2 separate regions of the Homo sapiens genome follow, and region 1 is linked to region 2. The links come from fine-mapping of genetic effects on plasma protein levels. A gene starts in region 2. The other region holds a variant in brackets. All regions are shown on one strand. Distances are from middle to middle.

Evidence for each region. A credible set is the group of variants that fine-mapping cannot tell apart. PIP is the posterior inclusion probability: the model's chance that the variant is causal. Protein levels are from antibody-based Olink assays in UK Biobank. Linkage for the fine-mapping came from a reference panel and not from the study's own genotypes, which makes the PIPs less certain.
Region 1: its variant is the best candidate, but not a certain one, in a credible set for the plasma level of the ECE1 protein (UK Biobank, PIP 0.77).

The regions. Positions count from the first base shown.
Region 1 is chr1:21,217,661-21,221,660 of GRCh38, reverse strand. ECE1 (endothelin converting enzyme 1) reads left to right here. Exons shown (of 19, transcript NM_001397.3): 19 at 1,530-4,000. The coding sequence ends at 1,706. Among named protein-coding and RNA genes, the nearest start is that of EIF4G3, 43 kb to the right of the region's middle. RefSeq lists a silencer at 3,418-3,623. The variant T/A (reference allele first, on the strand shown) is at 2,121.
Region 2 is chr1:21,288,413-21,292,412 of GRCh38, reverse strand. ECE1 (endothelin converting enzyme 1) reads left to right here and starts at 1,950. Exons shown (of 19, transcript NM_001397.3): 1 at 1,950-2,049; 2 at 2,257-2,343. The coding sequence starts at 1,999. RefSeq lists silencers at 1,869-2,048, 2,099-2,268 and an enhancer at 2,945-3,506.

The DNA.
Region 1 (4,000 bases), 71 kb after region 2:
CCACAGATTGAGAACTTCCCAAGTCACTGGACTGTGCACAGCACATGTGCCCTGTCATTAGAGAGATGCACGGAAGGGCCCAAAGTACCAGTGAAGGGATTCCTGGATCTGGTGAATGAGAAGACGAGGTGATCACCCAGGGCCCTTCTGGTTCTAGGGTTCTAGAGGTTTCTTAAACTTAAGATGACCAGCCAGGCACAGCAGCCCACGCCTATAATCCCAGCACTTTGGGCGGCCGAGGCAAGTGGATCACCTGAGGTCAGGAGTTTGAGACCAGCCTAGTCCACATAGTGAAACCCTGTCTCTATGAAAAAATACAAAAAAAAAGTCAGGCATGGTGGTGGCTGCCTGTAGTCCCAGCTTCTTGGGAGGCTGAGGCATGAGAATCACTTGAACCTGGGAGGCAGAGGTTGCAGTGAACCAAGATCACGCCACTGCACTCCAGCCCGGGCAACATAGCAAGATTCTGTCTTGCTGTGATCATCCCAGATCATCCCTTCAGTCGGCATTCATCTGGTAGCCTTCTGCTGGCACTCAGAGCTACCAGGCCATTAGACAATTTGTTCTGCCCAGGAAATGAGAGATCTGGACTAAATCCAAGCTTTTCCAACTGGTGTTTGGACACAGTCCTTTGTTCAGATGGAATCGAATGCAGTTGCCTCAGAGATGCTGCGCTGGCTGAAGGAGAACAGTTTGGAGACAACTGCGTTAGAGGCTGCTGGCATGGGGGGTGGCACACCAGCCCTACACCAGCCCACTGTCTCTTCCTGACCCGCTCAGGGGACCCTCCTGACTCCCCGGGATCTCAGGATCAGGTGGGGGGCTTATCTCCCTGGTGTTGTATTTTCTGGGTTTTGTTTTTTTGGAGCCGGAGTCTCCCTCAGTCACCCGGCCTGGAGTGCAATGGTGTGATCTTGGCTCACTGCAACCTCAACCTCCCGGGTTCAAGTGATTCTCCTGCCTCATCCTCTCATGTAGCTGGGATATAGGCACGCACCACCACGCCCATCTAATTTTTGTATTTTTAGTAGAGACAGGGTTTCACCATGTTTGTCAGGCCGGTCTCGAACTCCTGGCCTCAAGTGATCCACCGCCACCTTGGCCTCTTAAAGTGCTGGGATTACAGGTATGAGCCACCACACCCAACCTTGTTTTGCTTTTTGAGACAGGATCTCACTCTATCACCGAGGCTGGAATGCAGTGGCACAATCACAGCTCACTGCAGCCTTGACTTCTCCAGCTCCAGTGATCCTCCCACCTCAGCCTCCCCAGGAGCTGGGACCATAGGTGTACACCACCATCCCTGGTTAATTTTTTTTTTAATTTTTTGTAGAGATGGGGTCTTGCCATGTTGCCCAAGCTGGTCATGAACTCCTGGGCTCAAGCAGCCCTTCCACCTTGGCTCCCAAAGTGCTGGGATTACAGGTGTGAGCCACCGCACCTGGCCTCCCCTGCTGTTATAATGGGGGCAGTCTGGCAGCCCGAGGGCCCCACAGTGACCCTGGCCTCTCCCTGTTGCCCCTTCAAAGGTCTGGTGCTCCGTCCGCACACCTGAGAGCTCCCACGAAGGCCTCATCACCGATCCCCACAGCCCCTCTCGCTTCCGGGTCATCGGCTCCCTCTCCAATTCCAAGGAGTTCTCAGAACACTTCCGCTGCCCACCTGGCTCACCCATGAACCCGCCTCACAAGTGCGAAGTCTGGTAAGGACGAAGCGGAGAGAGCCAAGACGGAGGAGGGGAAGGGGCTGAGGACGAGACCCCCATCCAGCCTCCAGGGCATTGCTCAGCCCGCTTGGCCACCCGGGGCCCTGCTTCCTCACACTGGCGGGTTTTCAGCCGGAACCGAGCCCATGGTGTTGGCTCTCAACGTGACCCGCAGTCTGATCCCCTGTGAAGAGCCGGACATCCCAGGCACACGTGTGCGCCACCTTCAGCAGGCATTCGGGTGCTGGGCTGGTGGCTCATCAGGCCTGGGCCCCACACTGACAAGCGCCAGATACGCCACAAATACCACTGTGTCAAATGCTTTCAAGATATATTTTTGGGGAAACTATTTTTTAAACACTGTGGAATACACTGGAAATCTTCAGGGAAAAACACATTTAAACACTTTTTTTTT[T/A]AAGGAAAGAATTGGTATATTTATTATGTTCTGTTTTTCTAAATAACCTGTGGACAAGGGAAGCCCCACTGATTTACTCCCTCTCTTCCCCACTCCCTGTGAGGCTGGGCTGAGGCACGGATCCCTGGGCCACAGAGCAAGTCTCCAAATCAGACAGCTGCCTCAGCCCCTGGGATGTGTGATTTCAGCTCCTGTCACCTCATGCAAGGGCGTGGAGACCAGTAGAGGTGTGGAGGCCAGGCAGAGAGAGGAGCCTGCTCTGCGGGGGGCCCAGCTCATGGGCACTGCCCCTTCAGCTAGCCTGCCTCCGTCCCCTGAGTCCAACAGTGGGAGCCCTAGCTGGGAAGTTCTGATCCCCAAAGCCACAGCAGGGGACTGATGGCTATAGCAGAATGAGGTCGGGTCAGGACCCTCAAACACCATCTGGGAACACCAAGCACCCTGAATCGAGACTGCAGGAGCCCTGCGGGGTGAGACTGTGTCAGAGATACACTGCTGGCCACAAGTGTCCCCTCTCAGTCCCACCTTTTCGGGCTGTCCCATGTCTATCTCAGGGGCCCGTTACCTCTCTGCAGCAGTCCCCCATCCCAGCCACACCAGGGTCTGTCCGGCCAACCCTCTTCCCCAGGGAAAGGAGAAAAGAGAAAACAGGCTGGGCCCGGTGGCTCACTCCTGTAATCCCAGCACTTTGGGAGGTTGAGGTGGGCGGATCACCTGAGGTCAGGAGTTTGAGACCAGCCTGGCCAACGTGGTGAAACCCCATCTCTACTAAAAAAAATTACAAAAATTAGCCGGGAGTGGTGGTGGGCACCTGTAATCCCAGTTACTCGGGAGGCTGAGGCAAGAGAATCTCTTGAGCTCAGGAGGCAGAGGTTGCAGTGAGCTGAGATTGCGCCACTGCACTCCAGCCTGGGTGACAGAGGGAGACTCCGTCCCAAAAAAAAGAAAAGAGAAACAGCTGTCACCTCCCGCAGGACCCAAATCCTCTCTCTGAGCACCGTCATCCACCACATGGCTGGGCCTGGCTCCCAGGACCAGTCCAGTCCTCTAGTGCCTTATCTGAGGCTGCAGCCGCCAGTCTCCACCCCAAGGAGACAGCCCCTGCTCCTAGATGCCCTTGGCCTCCGCAGTGCAGCCCCCAGGTGTCCTGACTGAAGCACAGGCCATAGCCCCATTTCCCCGGTGCCTGCAGGGCTAACCTCCACGGGAGCCCAGGAGCTCTGGCCGGCAGGTCCATGGCACAGGGCATCGGAAGACTGCAAAACTGCTGGACTTACCCTGGGCTGCAGTCCATTGTCGGCCCCTGGGTTGAATCAAGATAGTACTTGCAGCTAGATGGATGCTTTTAGCCAGGGGACATTGTGAGGGGAAGATTCCTCCACCCAGTCTGGCCTGTGGTGTCTGTCTCCTCCCTGAGACCACAGCTTCTCCAGTAGCAGACTCATGGGCGCCACCAAGTGGAAGCACCTGGAGCGGCCTCTGCCATCCAGTGGGGAAGCCAGGCCCCGAGACGGAGGTGGGGGCAGCACGTGCCCTCCACAGCCACCGCTTTCCCGCCTCAGCAGCCCAGGCCTCCTGGCCCAGCCCTGCCTGGACAGTGCTCTCCCCTCACCCGGGAAGCTGGAATCCTCCTGCCCGAGAGGAAGCAGACGGCACAGGGACACCCCTGCCACCTTGGGATCTGCCTCCAAGCTGGTGCAGGGTATCGAGAGTGGATTCCAGATGGAGGTCCTGGTCCCAGCACGCAGCAGTCCTGGTAGCTCTGCAGAGGAGACAGGAACCCGAGAAGTAGCTGAAGCAGAAGCCAGCCGCAGTCCCCTTGCCACATAGAGGCGGGCTTCTCCCAGCCATGGTGTCCCCTCTGCCTCCCCTCCCCCGAC
Region 2 (4,000 bases):
AGAGAGGAGGAAAAAATGTTCCAGATAGAGACAACAGCAGCTACAAAGGTCTTGGGGGAAGAAGAAACTTGTAGAAACTGAGGAGTTGTGTGAGGAGGTTGGTGGGGGAGGGGGCGCTGGCAGCACAAGATGAGGGCCCAGAGTGGGCAGGGGCCATGGGGCCTGGTGAAGGGTTTGGATTTCATTCCAGGACAGTGGAGGGTTTTTAAGCAAGGGAGTGGTAATATCAGAATTTTTTTTTATTTTATTTATTTACTCAGACAAGATCTTGTTGTGTCGTCCACGCTGGAGTGCAGTGGTGCAATCACAGCTCACTGTAGCCGCCACCTCCTGGCTTCAAGCGATTCTCCCACCTAAGCCTCCCAAGTAGCTGGGACTACAGGCGCATACCACCACGTCCTGCTAATTAAAAATATATAATATATAAATATATATATATATATTTTCTTTTTGTAGAGATGGGGTCCGTGTTGCCCAGGCTGGCCTAGAATTAGACTCAAGTGATCTCCTGCCTCAGCCTCCCAAAGTGCTGGGATTACAGGTGTGAACCACTGAACCCAGCCAGATTTCTGTGGTTTGTTTGTTTGAGATGGAGTCTCACTCTGTCACCCAGGCTAGAGTACAGTGGCACAATCTCAGCTCACTGCAACCTCGACCTCCTGGGTTCAAGCGATTCTTCTGCCTCAGCCTCCTGAGTAGCTAGGATTACAGATGCATGCCACCAGGCCCAGCTGATTTTTTGTATTTTTAGTAGAGATGGGGTTTCATCATGTTGGCCAGGCTGGTCTTGAACTCCTGACCTCAAGTGATCTACCCAACTTGGCCTCCCAAAGTGTTGGGATTACAGGCGCGAGCGAGCCATGGTGCCTGGCCTCAGCCAGATTTCATTTTAAAGGCTCATCCTGGCTGCTGAGGGGGCTGTCAGAGGGCAGGAGTGGAAGCCAGGAGACCATCTGGAGCCATTGCCCTCACTGTCCCTGTGACGTCAGGCCCCTCACCCCTCTAAACCTGTTTATTCACACATATGTGTGACTGTGAGAATCAAATTTGGAATGAGCAGAAATGCACTTTGCAAAGCTGAAAAGTACGCATAAATGCAGGGATTCCCGCCTTGCTAGAAGCGGAGAGTCCTTTGGAAATCTGCTGGGTTAGACCTCTCTGGGGTTCTTGGTTGGGACAGTGCTGGGCCTGAGTCCCTAACTGAACACCTCATATCCGAGAGAGCCCCCTTTCCCTGCCTAGGGTTATAGGAGAGGGCTCAGGGGCTGGGGAGGGGGGCACCTGGCTGAGGCTCCGAGTCTTGAGGGGGAAGATGGGAAAGAAGGGTCCCCTTCCTGGCTTCTGACTCCCCCTGGAGCAATGGTTCTCTTGTGTTGCAGGGAGGGCGACACCTTTGAGCACGGGGGTGACCACCGGACCACCCTGCAGCCATCCAAATGCACACACACAGCTCCTTTCATCCCGTGTCAGGGAGTTCTCTGAAATTTTCTGAAACTCATTCACGAACTCTGGCTTAAAGGCCTCTGAGCTAGAAAGGGGAACTGAAAGGGGACACCTACCTTTTTACCCCACCTTTTTTGTCTGGTCTTTCTAGCATTAACCCCCTAGACACACCTAAGGGCTGATGCCGGGGGGAACCTGTCTTGATTGCTCTGGGCCACATCGAGGGCACCTTCCTGATACTTTTGTTATCTGCCACTGGGGACCCGGTTGTTGAAGGGGGACTTAAGATTTTCTCGAAGGAGGGGTCACTGTGAGGGCCTTTCCTGCCTGCTAGGGGCTTCAGTTTGGGGGCCCCCACTCCCGACCTCCGGGGAAGGGAGGGGTCCCCATCTCCCCCGGGCCTCTCGGGTCTTGGGGTCTCCCCGGGAGGCCGGAGGTTGGGAACCGGGCGCCGGCGAACCGATCAGGCCCCGCCCGCGAAGGTGGTGCAACGCCTGGCCCGGCCCATCCCATCCCGGCCACCCGGGCAGCGGGACCAGGCGTCTGGGGCACAGCATGCGGGGCGTGTGGCCGCCCCCGGTGTCCGCCCTGCTGTCGGCGCTGGGGGTGAGGCGGGCGCGGCCTGGAGGGCGGGGGCGGGAGGCGGGCGGGACCCCTCCCCGCGCGGGCCGCTCCGTGGGCCGGTCTCGGTCTCGGGTGTCCAGGCCGGGGCGGGGCGCGGCGGCGGCGGCGCCAGGGTCGGGGCCGCTTCCCCATTCGGGCGCGAGAGCCATGGAGGCGCTGAGGGAGTCCGTGCTGCATTTGGCCTTGCAGATGTCGACGTACAAGCGGGCCACGCTGGACGAGGAGGACCTGGTGGACTCGCTCTCCGAGGGCGACGCATACCCCAACGGCCTGCAGGTAGGCGCCCTCCGCTCCCTCCCGAGGTCCAGGCGCCCCGGGCCCGGGCATGCGCGCTGCCGCTGCCGCGCCCCCCGCCCCTACCTACCCCGCCTCTTCCCCTCCCTTCCCCTCCCTCGTCCCGGCATCCGGGAGGGGCCGCGCCTCCCCGCAGCTGGAGCTCCGCGCTGAGAAGCCTTCCGGAGCCCACCAGTCTCCCCTCACCTGCCCCCGCCATCCCTAGAGCCTCCCGGCCACCTGCTTCTGGGGCCACAGCCCAGGTGGCAGAGTTGAAAGCACCCCCGAGACCCGAACTGGTCCAGTTCCCTTTCCACAGAAGGCACAGTTTGTGCATGTCCCGGGACTTGCCCAGGCCCTTTACCGGCAGAGTCTACGGCTGTTTCTGTTTTAGCGTGGAAAGCCCTGCATCCCTGGAACCCACTCCCCCAGTCCGGGGCAAACTGGGAAAGTTGGTCACCTTATCCGGGAGGCAGTACCACCCTCTTCCTCTTGCCCTCCCAATACCTGAGTTTCCTGGGGCCAGAAACCTGTTCTCTGCCCCCTCTCCCTGCCCCTTTTCCAGCCTACTAAGGAAGTCCAATTCCTCCCCTCCCCAGGGTCTCCGCCCGTGGGCATCCCATCTGCCCACTCCTGGGGAGGGCCCCACCCCCGTCCCTGCCTTGTAACAGGACATTGAGCAAGGCTGCTTTCTGCCCTCCCGTCCCTGGGGGGCTGCACTGGGACAGTTGTGGCCAAGACCTCAGTGCTGGAGGGGTTTGGAGCCAGCCAGGTGCGTGGGAAGGTGCTGGAAACGCTGCGGACACCCTAGGAGACCCAGTGATCTGGCTCTTGAGAAGCCAGTGTAGAAAGAGGAGCTGGGGCACCCCAATTCTCGGAGGACTTCTGCCAGGTAGACCAAGGGAAGTATTTGGGAGAATCTTGGGGCCACTTGGTGAACTGGCACACAACTCTTCCCAAAGGCGAGCTTAGGATGAATGGACGCTTAGTTGCCAGGCCCACTCCACTCAGATACGCCTCTTAGAAGCGGGAATAATCCTCCCAGCGCAGGGAGACACCATTGATGGAGTTCCTCCTCCAGGGTCACATAGGCCCAGGGGACCCAAACTCACAGTCCCAAGGGCTCTACCCACTGGGATGTGTGGTACCCCTGCTTAACCTTCAGGAACACCCCTGAGACCTGTAGGGATTACTGTCCCCACTTACAGATGTGGAAACTGAGGCTCTGAGAGGGGCAACCACTGGCCTTCGGTCACCGAGCTAAAAATCCGAGAGCGACACGTCAAACCCTGTCTGTCTCAAACCTCTTCCCAGTGGACTCTTCTTAAGAGGCTGAAGCCAGCAGGAAATTAGATTTCTGGGGCAGGTGCTTTTCCCTTCTCAAATCAAAACAGAATCTAATCAGCAATGTTTTTCAGTCTCATCTTCCACAGAAGGGTCTAAATATATCAACACAAAAGCATTTCAGAATTCACAGCAAAGTAATAATGCCATGTTGCTGTTATCCTCACAGCAGCCTGTTTGGGGTATAACCTTTTTCAGATGAAATAGCACATTTCTCTGGGGAGGGCCCCCGGCCAAGCAGGAGGAGCCCCGTCTCTGAAGCCAGCGACCCGGGTTTGAGTTCTTACTCCACTCACGACCTTGGGCTAGTGGCTTA